Regions from separate parts of the Homo sapiens genome. Here region 2 is linked to region 1. The links come from fine-mapping of genetic effects on gene expression. A gene starts in region 1. The other region holds a variant in brackets. All regions are shown on one strand. Distances are from middle to middle.

Evidence for each region.
Region 2: its variant is fine-mapped to the expression of EHD3 in whole blood (TOPMed, PIP above 0.99).

Annotation. Positions count from the first base shown.
Region 1 is chr2:31,231,517-31,235,901 of GRCh38, forward strand. It overlaps EHD3 (EH domain containing 3), which reads left to right and starts at 2,636. Exons shown (of 6, transcript NM_014600.3): 1 at 2,636-3,332. The coding sequence starts at 3,106. It also overlaps a transcript of CAPN14 not described here.
Region 2 is chr2:31,255,057-31,259,441 of GRCh38, forward strand. All of the region lies in intron 3 of EHD3 (EH domain containing 3), which reads left to right. It overlaps LOC124905983 (a long non-coding RNA gene), which reads right to left. Exons shown (of 4, transcript XR_007086270.1): 2 at 2,600-2,791. Among named protein-coding and RNA genes, the nearest start is that of EHD3, 23 kb to the left of the region's middle. RefSeq lists enhancers at 1,151-1,978, 2,064-2,113. The variant G/T (reference allele first, on the strand shown) is at 2,126.

The DNA.
Region 1 (4,385 bases):
TTCATGACCTTTTATTGCTAGTCTATAGAAATGCTCCATTAGTTCCTTTTTTAAACAGATAGATTTCAACTACTCAAGACTGAGACGGGAGTAGATGTGTCAACACGCACTTGGTAAATTAGATATTCGGAACAGACATTCAGCAGTAGACAATGGCATGGCCGTACTGATTACAAAATTCTTGAAATACTTCCATAATGGGGCCCCTTGATTTCTTTCCTGTCACGCTGGCCATACTGACCTCTCTCCGGGGACAGGCTCAGATCTCTCCAAGGTCCAGACGCCACTGTATTAACACCAGGCGTGGCACGGGGCCGCAAGCCTTGCTCCACTAGGAAGGCCAGTGTCTGTTCCGGGTGTTTGATTCTCATGCCTTGTGAGTTGTTAAATATCTTTAATATTACTCCTTAGGTTCGTATGTTGGTAGTAGCTAAACACCAAGGGTGAAATATTAATCTGAGTGAATTCTCAACAAGAGATGATCAGTTTTGGGGTTCAAGGAGGGAGTCGGGAGATCTGAGATGTAACTAAGGAGATTCTATTCAGCACTGGCCTCTGATAATCCCCCCTCCCCTGAAATCCCTGCAGCTTCACCACACTCCTCTTGAAGCTCCTGCAGGCACTTCAAACGCAACACGTTTTAGATTGAACACATTATCTCTGTCTGCTAAATCAGCTCTCTCTCTGCCTCCCCTAATTAGTGGAAGAGCTTCTCCAATGATCTTATCCCCTATGGTAGAAAATTCAAAATCATCCTAGACTGTGCCTCACCCTTATGTCCTCTTTTTTTTATCACATACCAAGATCTGACAATTCTATTCCATGAAAAAAATCTTTTGAGTCTGACCTCTTCTCCAATCCCATTGCAGCTGTCTCCTAAGTTTTGGAATAGTTTCCTAAATGGTCTCTTGGCCTCTGTATTCGTCTGTTTTCACACTGCTGTGAAGAAATACCTAAGACTGGGTAATTTATAAAGGAAAAAGGTTTAATTAACTCACAGTTCTGCATGCCTAGAGAGGCCTCAGGAAACTTACAGTCATGGCATAAAGGGAAGCAAACACGTCCTTCATAAGGCGGCAGGAGAGAGAAGTATGAGGAACCAAGTGGGAAGAGCCCCTTATAAAACCATCAGCTCTCACGAGAACTCACTCACTATCATGAGAACAGCATGAATGAAACTGTCCCTATGATCCAATCTCCTCCCACCAGCTCTCTCCCTAAACGCATGGGGATTATGGGGATTACAATTAGAGATGAGATTTATGCGGGGACACAAAGCAAAACCATATCAACCCCCAACCTCTTTTGCCCCTCCAACACTGCTCTTGGCATTCCAGTTCCTGCCTGGTCCATAGCCTACTCCTTCTTCATCTGTGGAAGGGAGGGTAGTGGGAGTCATTAGCCTGGGCAGGGAGGAGTGTTTTATCACTACACTGTTTAGAATGGTGCCAATACAAAGCACATCAACTTTCAGCAAGTTTATTATTGGGTTTAAATTCTCTACACACGATGCACTGCTTTTGCCTACACCTGGACAGTGTTCCCACTCACTCTCCTTAGTATGATGCTGGAGATAATATGATCTGCCATGAAGGTTAAATAAAGCAATGTTCACTGAGAACTTAGCCCAGGCCCCTGCACATGCTGAGCATTTTGTTAATGTAACAATGATTAGTAATAGCATTGCTATTGGTTCCCCATCTCTGGCAAAGCCTTTCATGCTTGGCCTCCCTCACTCTCTTTCACCTTCCTAAACCCTACACTCCAGCTATGCCAAACTGTTTACTCTGCCTTGGACACACCAAGTTCCTCAAGCCTTTGCAAATACTCCTTACGCTCCTAGAACAATGGATGTCAATTCATCATTTAGGATCCAGCTTACAGTCATGCTTTCCATGAAGCCTTCCTCAAATTAGCCACACAAAAGGAGTGACTCCTCCCTGTATTCCCATGACCCTCTGCTCATGCCTCCTCTTTAAAGCCTGCCTTCACTGGAGTTCCTGGAAGGGAGAGTCTGTTCAGCACTCATCTCTGTATCCACAGTCACCAAAATTGTAACTGCCCCATAATAAATTCCCAATACTTGCAGGGATTTTGCTTCTTGGCTTGTTTTGTTTTGCTGGAATGAATGAATAAGTAAATGGGAACGATTTTGACTTCACCCTAAGCCTAGCTAAAAGTTTGGGTAGTGACAGTTTTGGTTATTTTGTGTAACCTGATAGTGGATCCCCTTTCTATGCCAAAAAAAAAAAAAATCCCCCAATACTAGAGTACCTGTTTTCCTAGGGAATTGACCTCAGCAACTGAAGGAGAGGCGATTCAAAGCAGGGAGTGTGATGAATAGGTCAACTCTGTCCTCGCAGCCGTCCCTGAGAGGGCGCTGTTCCCAAATCGAAGCCCCAGAGGCGGAGACTGAGACACCGGCACTCTCCCACTGGACTGGGTCAGCATCCCTCTCCCCGCGCGGCCGCAGGTCTAGAGCTGAGCGCCTGCCCACAAACATGGCGGCGCCCTGCGCGGCTTCCCGTCGCCGCAACCGTGGGGCCGGCCCTGCCTTGCCAGTACTAGGGGACTTCCTCTGCGCGCCGGCTTCCTGCCCAGCTGGCATTTAAACCACCGCCTGGGGCTGCAGGATGCTGCTGCGGATGCAGAGCTGTCCGCGGGCTGGGCAGCGTCGCCGTCTCCCCTGAGCCGCCTCGGTCCGGCAGGAGCGGAGCCGAAGCATCCCTTGCTGCACGCAGGGCAGAGCAGGCGAGGGCTGGGGGCCGATCGGGGACCCCGGCTTGGGACCCCGGCATCTGGCAGTTTCCTTGCAGGTTCAACTTTAATTGCCAAGATTTCACCCCTCCTCCTCAAGCCCAGATTATTTATCCTCCCTCCGGCCTGGGCTGCTGGATGCAGCAGCGGCTGGGCTTGGTCCCAGGAGCAGGGAGAGTGCGCTCCCGGCCCTCCTAGCCGCGTGCCCGGGCCATGGTGCGGCTGAGCCCCGCGCTTGGGTGAGGCGGCGGCGCGGCTCGGAGCCCGGCGGACCGGTCCTACGGGACATCTTCCCCTGAGGAGGAGTCTTCCCCTGGGGCTGCGTGCCGGGGGCGAGCGGCGGCCGCGATGTTCAGCTGGCTGGGTACGGACGACCGCCGGAGGAAGGACCCCGAGGTTTTCCAGACGGTGAGTGAGGGGCTCAAGAAACTCTACAAGAGCAAGCTGCTGCCCTTGGAAGAGCATTACCGCTTCCACGAGTTCCACTCGCCCGCCCTGGAGGATGCCGACTTCGACAACAAGCCCATGGTTCTGCTGGTGGGCCAGTACTCCACTGGGAAGACCACCTTCATCAGGTGAGCCGGCCCAGGGTCCTGGCAGCCCACCCCGGAGCCCAGCGCCTAGTCCCTCCGGTCACTCCTGGTGCTCCATCCCAGACAGGGGACCAATGGGAAGCCTTCAGTTGAGGGCTCTGAAGAGATCTGTGTTTGTGCAGGCGTCAAAATCTTACCCCACAATTTTTGCTGGTCCCCCTTCCCATCCTACCCAATACCTGTCCACTCTACTTGGCCCTTGGCTGTGGTGGTCAACCTGAAGTATTCAAGTGTAAAGCCATTCCCAGTCTCCCCATCTTATGGATGATGAAACCGAGGCCCAGGAGGCACAATGGAAGAGCTCCTGGTCTCTGGAGCGCCTTATGTTGGTGGGGATGTCTTACGTCTTCACTTTTTAGCAACACATCATTCACGGGCAAAACCTCTTCCCTTGTTTTTCAAGGGGCTTGGCACTCACATGGGGGCCTCACAGTTGCAGCTGAGTTCTGATGGGTGCGGGCCTGGGAACGGAGGTGGCCTGGGGATGCTACTTGTCCTCCTTTTATCATTTCCTTCTCTAAAGCAGAGCTCCTGTGTATATATCTTGGAGACTCAACAGAAGCTGAGTCCAGAAGCAGAATGCTTTTTTTTTCCCCTTTCTCTTATTTGATCTTAATGGCTTAATAATAATATTAAAGACGCTTAGAGATGGAAGGGATATTGGCATTGTCTCATCCAGTTGCTGAGTTTGCAGGTGAGATAACCGAGGCGCAGAGAAGTTAAATGAATTGTGCAGAGCCATCTAAAGAGTGGGCAGCAGACCTGGGATGTTAAGTCCTAGATGCATGTGAGGAGATGCTTGGCTAAACGCCTGTAACTCTGAGAATGAGTCATCCATTCCCTTCAATTACAGAATCCTTGGGCTGGAGGGAGGCTCAAGAAGTCAATTTGTTCACCCTGCATTCAGAGAAGTCCACCAGAGGCCCTTCTTATCTTTAGAGAACAGGCTTCACTCCAGTCCTCAATCTTCCCAACTTCAAGGCCAGCCATTTTCTTGGCCCCTTTTATAGCCATTCCAAATTGTTGAGAATGCTG
Region 2 (4,385 bases), 24 kb after region 1:
CAAAGTGCTTTCTTTCCAGTCATCTGGAGCCTCCGGTTGGAGGGGACCATAGATCCCTGCAGGCTGCCCAGTCTCCAGGCCCGGAGCTGGCTGACTAGACCTCTTAGAGCCAGCAGACTTGTGCTATGAAGTCCAGGAAGGGCAGCTTCTCTGCTCTGTCTCTTGGGGCTTGAATCTCCCCCGACTCACTAGTCCATATTTCATGAACACTTGGGCTGCCGCAGGTGCCCAAGAGCTACCGTTGTGGGTCTCAGAGCCATCGCTGGGACCAGAGAGGGGAAGGGGGCCTGTCACTGGCCATAGCACTCACCGCAGCTGCTGAGGCAGTCTGTGCTGTCAGATCTTGTTGCCACAGCTCTACCACAGAGTCCTCATTCAGCTCTACCACAGACCCCTCATTCAGTCATTTGTTATCCCTATTTTGCAGCTGAGAAAATTGAGGTTCAGATTTGCCAAATAAATGAGAAAGCTAATCCTATACCATACCCTTTTTCTTACTGGGTCCAGTCCATACCTTTGAGATACCGCCATTCCTAGATCTGCACCTAAGTCCAGGCCAAGTGAACAACTAAATATCCACCCTACAGATGACACAGCCTCGGGGTTAGCCAGGAGCAGGGAAGTCGAGCTTCAGAGCAACCCATGGAGTCATTGCTTGATGGTCATGGTCTTCACAGCCACACCTGGCTGGAAGCTTCTGGCATTACTGAGTCTGTAATTGGATAGCAGCTTTCCAGAGCAAATAGGAGGCCTCTGCTTATAAAATCACGGAAAGAGTTCCCAGAAGCCCTTGGCCTGTCCTCAGGCAGAGGCAGACTTCACACAGGCATCCCCGAGGCCTGTAAGACAGCAGCCTGCAGCCTCTCTCTCTTGCTGTGCCTGCAAAGGGTCCCTTGTAGCTAATCTCCATCCATCCTGTTGTACTCCCCACCCTCACACCTCTGGTCTCAGATGCAGAGAATTGTGAACCGAGAAAGGAAGCTCGGAGGTTGTCCAGCTCAATCCCCTGATTTGACAGGCAAAGAGACAGAGGACTAGAGAGGGGAGATTCTTGCCCAAGGACACACAGTAAGTTAGTGGCTAAGCGGAAACGAGAGGTGGACTCACCCAGGCCAGTGCTCCTCTGGTGACTCCTACAGAGCACATCCCATCTCATAGAAACTAGGGCTTAAAAGGAGTGCTTTACAAAAAACAGCAGGGCAATGAGAACAGCCAAGGTCACAGCTCAGCAGTTTCACCTGCATCCTCTGATTTGTTTAGATCCTCACAATAACCCTACGACTGAGTCACTGATTCCTCAACCATAAAACTGAGGCCCAGAGATTACTCATTTACTGTCTCCCAGATGCCAAACGTGGAACAGGTTTCCACGTTTTCCACGTTTCACTTCCGTTCAGCAAATACTGATAGTGCACCTGCTGTGTGCCACACACCGTGCTGGGTGCAGGGGAAGCCCAGAAGGGTGAGGTGCTGCCCCTGCCCTGTCCAGCTCCCAGTGCACCGAGGATGATTTCAGTGAGCTGAAGAGCAGAACAGGAGCGTGCATGATGCTACAAGACCACTGAGGGCAGGGACAGGGATAGGCAGGGGTCTATCCTGTTCTGGCAGCATGGACATATTGCTGCCCCTCAGCCTTTGCAGACACAGCCTTCTCTTACATCGCTGGTGTCATCAGGGATTGCAGCAAGTTGCAGGGACAGAGCCTCTTCCCTTCTCTGCAGCTTCTCTGGTGTCTTTGTTTTCCCCAGCCTGGTGGAGGCGTGGCTACAGTGCAAGAGTTGAGTTTGGAGTTCAGGTCTTGGCTCTGACCCCCAGCATTGCATGGCCTTGGGCCTTTCTCTCACCCTCTATAAACCTCCATTACCTTGTCAGCATAGGACTCAACACTGGCTGCCCTGGCTGCCTTAGCCTGTTCTGAGCCATTGAGCCAATATATTGGGGCTGAGATTTGCTGGACAGGTGAGAGGGAGCTGCAGCCCAGTCTTGGTCCTCCCAGCAGCCCCTCCTGTGGCCTGCACTGGCACAGCTAAAATCCAGATTGGGGAATAAGGAGCAGCAGAAGGCCAGAGGCCTGGCAGGGAGTTGTGGAGGGTCCCTACTGCCCTCCTGCTGTGAGCTGTTTGCA[G/T]AGGTGGGGGTTGGGGATTTTCTTAGCCCTCTGGCCCCTCCCTACCCACAGCTCTGAGGGACTGCCTTTGGGAGGTGACAGCAGCCTTGCCATGCGCTGTGCTGAAGGGAAGATAAAAATAGGCTGGAGCCATCCCTGGGAAGGGAAGGATGGACAGAGGGATGTAGGAAGGAGGGGAGTAGTGCGGGCTGCAGGCTTCACCTGAAGTGGGAATGCTTAGGCTTCCCGGGCTCCAGTGAGGAGCTGGCTGTGCCTGCGTGCCAGGGAGGGAGGGAGGGAGGCAGGGAGCGGCCAGGTGCAGAACGGCTGGATGGCTGACAGCTGGGTCATCTGGCCTCACGACTTGCCAACTGTTTGACTCTCTCCTCTCTGAACCTCAGTTTCCTCCCCTGGAAGTGAGAACGATACTCCTCGCGCTGCCTGCCTCAGAGCGTGTCGTGAGGGTGACATGAGATAATGACATGAACATCTTACCGTCTGCAGCAAGCACTGAACTTCGAGTTGGAGGCTAGGGGTCGTGTCTCATGGGTGGTATTGGCTGAGTCACTTAACTCCTAGAGTTTGCGTGAACATCTCCGAGGGAGGGTTGATGATGCCCCTGCCCACTGGGCAGAGCAGCCTCTGAAGCACTTTCCTGGGCCTTGTCTCTGAGCCGAGACAGGACACCTGTGTTCAAAAGAGAAGGCAAAATCTAGTTCACACCAGGCCCTCGATGACGCACCCATCAGGAACTATCCTCAGGATGGCACCTGGAGATACTGGGCCAGCTCTGCCCCTTCCTGAGCCTCAGTTTCCCTATCTGTAAATCAGGAAGTTGGACCATTGATGGCTAAGCTCCTCGTAGCCTCATAGGTCTACGCCACAGGAGCAGGGGGAGAAGGCTCAGGTGTTAGTTGAGCTGTATATTCATTGAGCAGCTGACAGATCTTGGAGAAAATCACATGGCAATGGGAATGCTTGGAAGCACTTCATTTACCAAAGACAGAGGAGCTGAAAATGGAGTAGTACTGGCATCCGGGTAACCAAAGGAGGGTTTGACCTTCCTTTGTTTGTTAGAATTCTCTTACAGCCACCAGGGAAACATTACAGGGGTCCTCCAGGAAGCTTTAGGGCAGCAAGTTTTCCCGACCGTCTGATCCCATCCCCCTACCCCCTGTGGCAGTGCCTCCACACGTCCTAAATATGTACCCCACTGGGTGTTCACTAGATGCCACAGGGTGGGGGAAAGGCTTTTTAAACCTAGCTCCGTTGGCTCCATTCATCCTCATCCCCCACCCCATCGATGCCTGCTACTTAGTCTGAAATGACAGCCTTTGAAAGTGAAAGCCAACTCGGTGCAGTGGTTCATAGCACTGACTCCAGGGCTACCTTCCTGGACTTGAGTCCCAGCCCATTGCTTACCAGCTGGGTGACCTTAGACAAGTTCCTTTATCTGTTTGTATCTCTGGTTACTCCTCAGAGAAGTGGGGCTGATATTAGTGTCTAATGACCCTACACAGAGTCATCGTGAGGATTAAAGGAATGAATGATTATAAAGTACTTAGGTCAGTGCTGAACACCTTTTGAATGCTATTGTTATTTTTATGGGCCAGTGGTATTCAAAGTGTGGCCCTTGGACCAACAGCATCAGAATCTCCTGGGAGCTTGTTAGAAATGCTCTGCGCCAGACCTACTGAATCAGAAACTTTGGGGATAGAGTCCAACCATCTGGGTTTTAAGAAGCCCTGGGGGGATTCTGATGGAGGCTAAGTCAGGACCCCTGTTAAAGACAGTCAGAGCTTCTTAAGTCTGACTCACTCACAAGGCAGTTGCCTGATGATCTTGCCTGGTCTCTAGCCTCCCTCTGTGAGGCAGGGCAGGCTTTTTCCTAATGATTTGGTTTCCCATTCGATGGTGGCAATGAGCTTTGGGTCCCCAGTGTGTGTCACCTTGGAACCCTTGTGCTATGGGGAGCCAGGATGGTTGGTCACTTTAGTACCCAAGAAAGGGCTCCTACCTTGGTGCCAGAGGTATGCCACGGGGGAGTGGCAGGAGGAGAGGCTGAGAACCCTGCTCAGACTCAGAATGGGAAAGCCTAACACCTCCATCTTCATGCGACTGCTGCTGCTCATGGGCTGTGTGCCCTTCGACAAATCACTTGACTTCTCTGAGCCCCACTTCCTTATCTCTTGTCTTCCTATTTTATGTAAGAGGAGCCTGAGACACAGAGGTAAGACCTACTGGGGCTCTGGGTGTCAGTGAATGTATAGACTATTGGTCC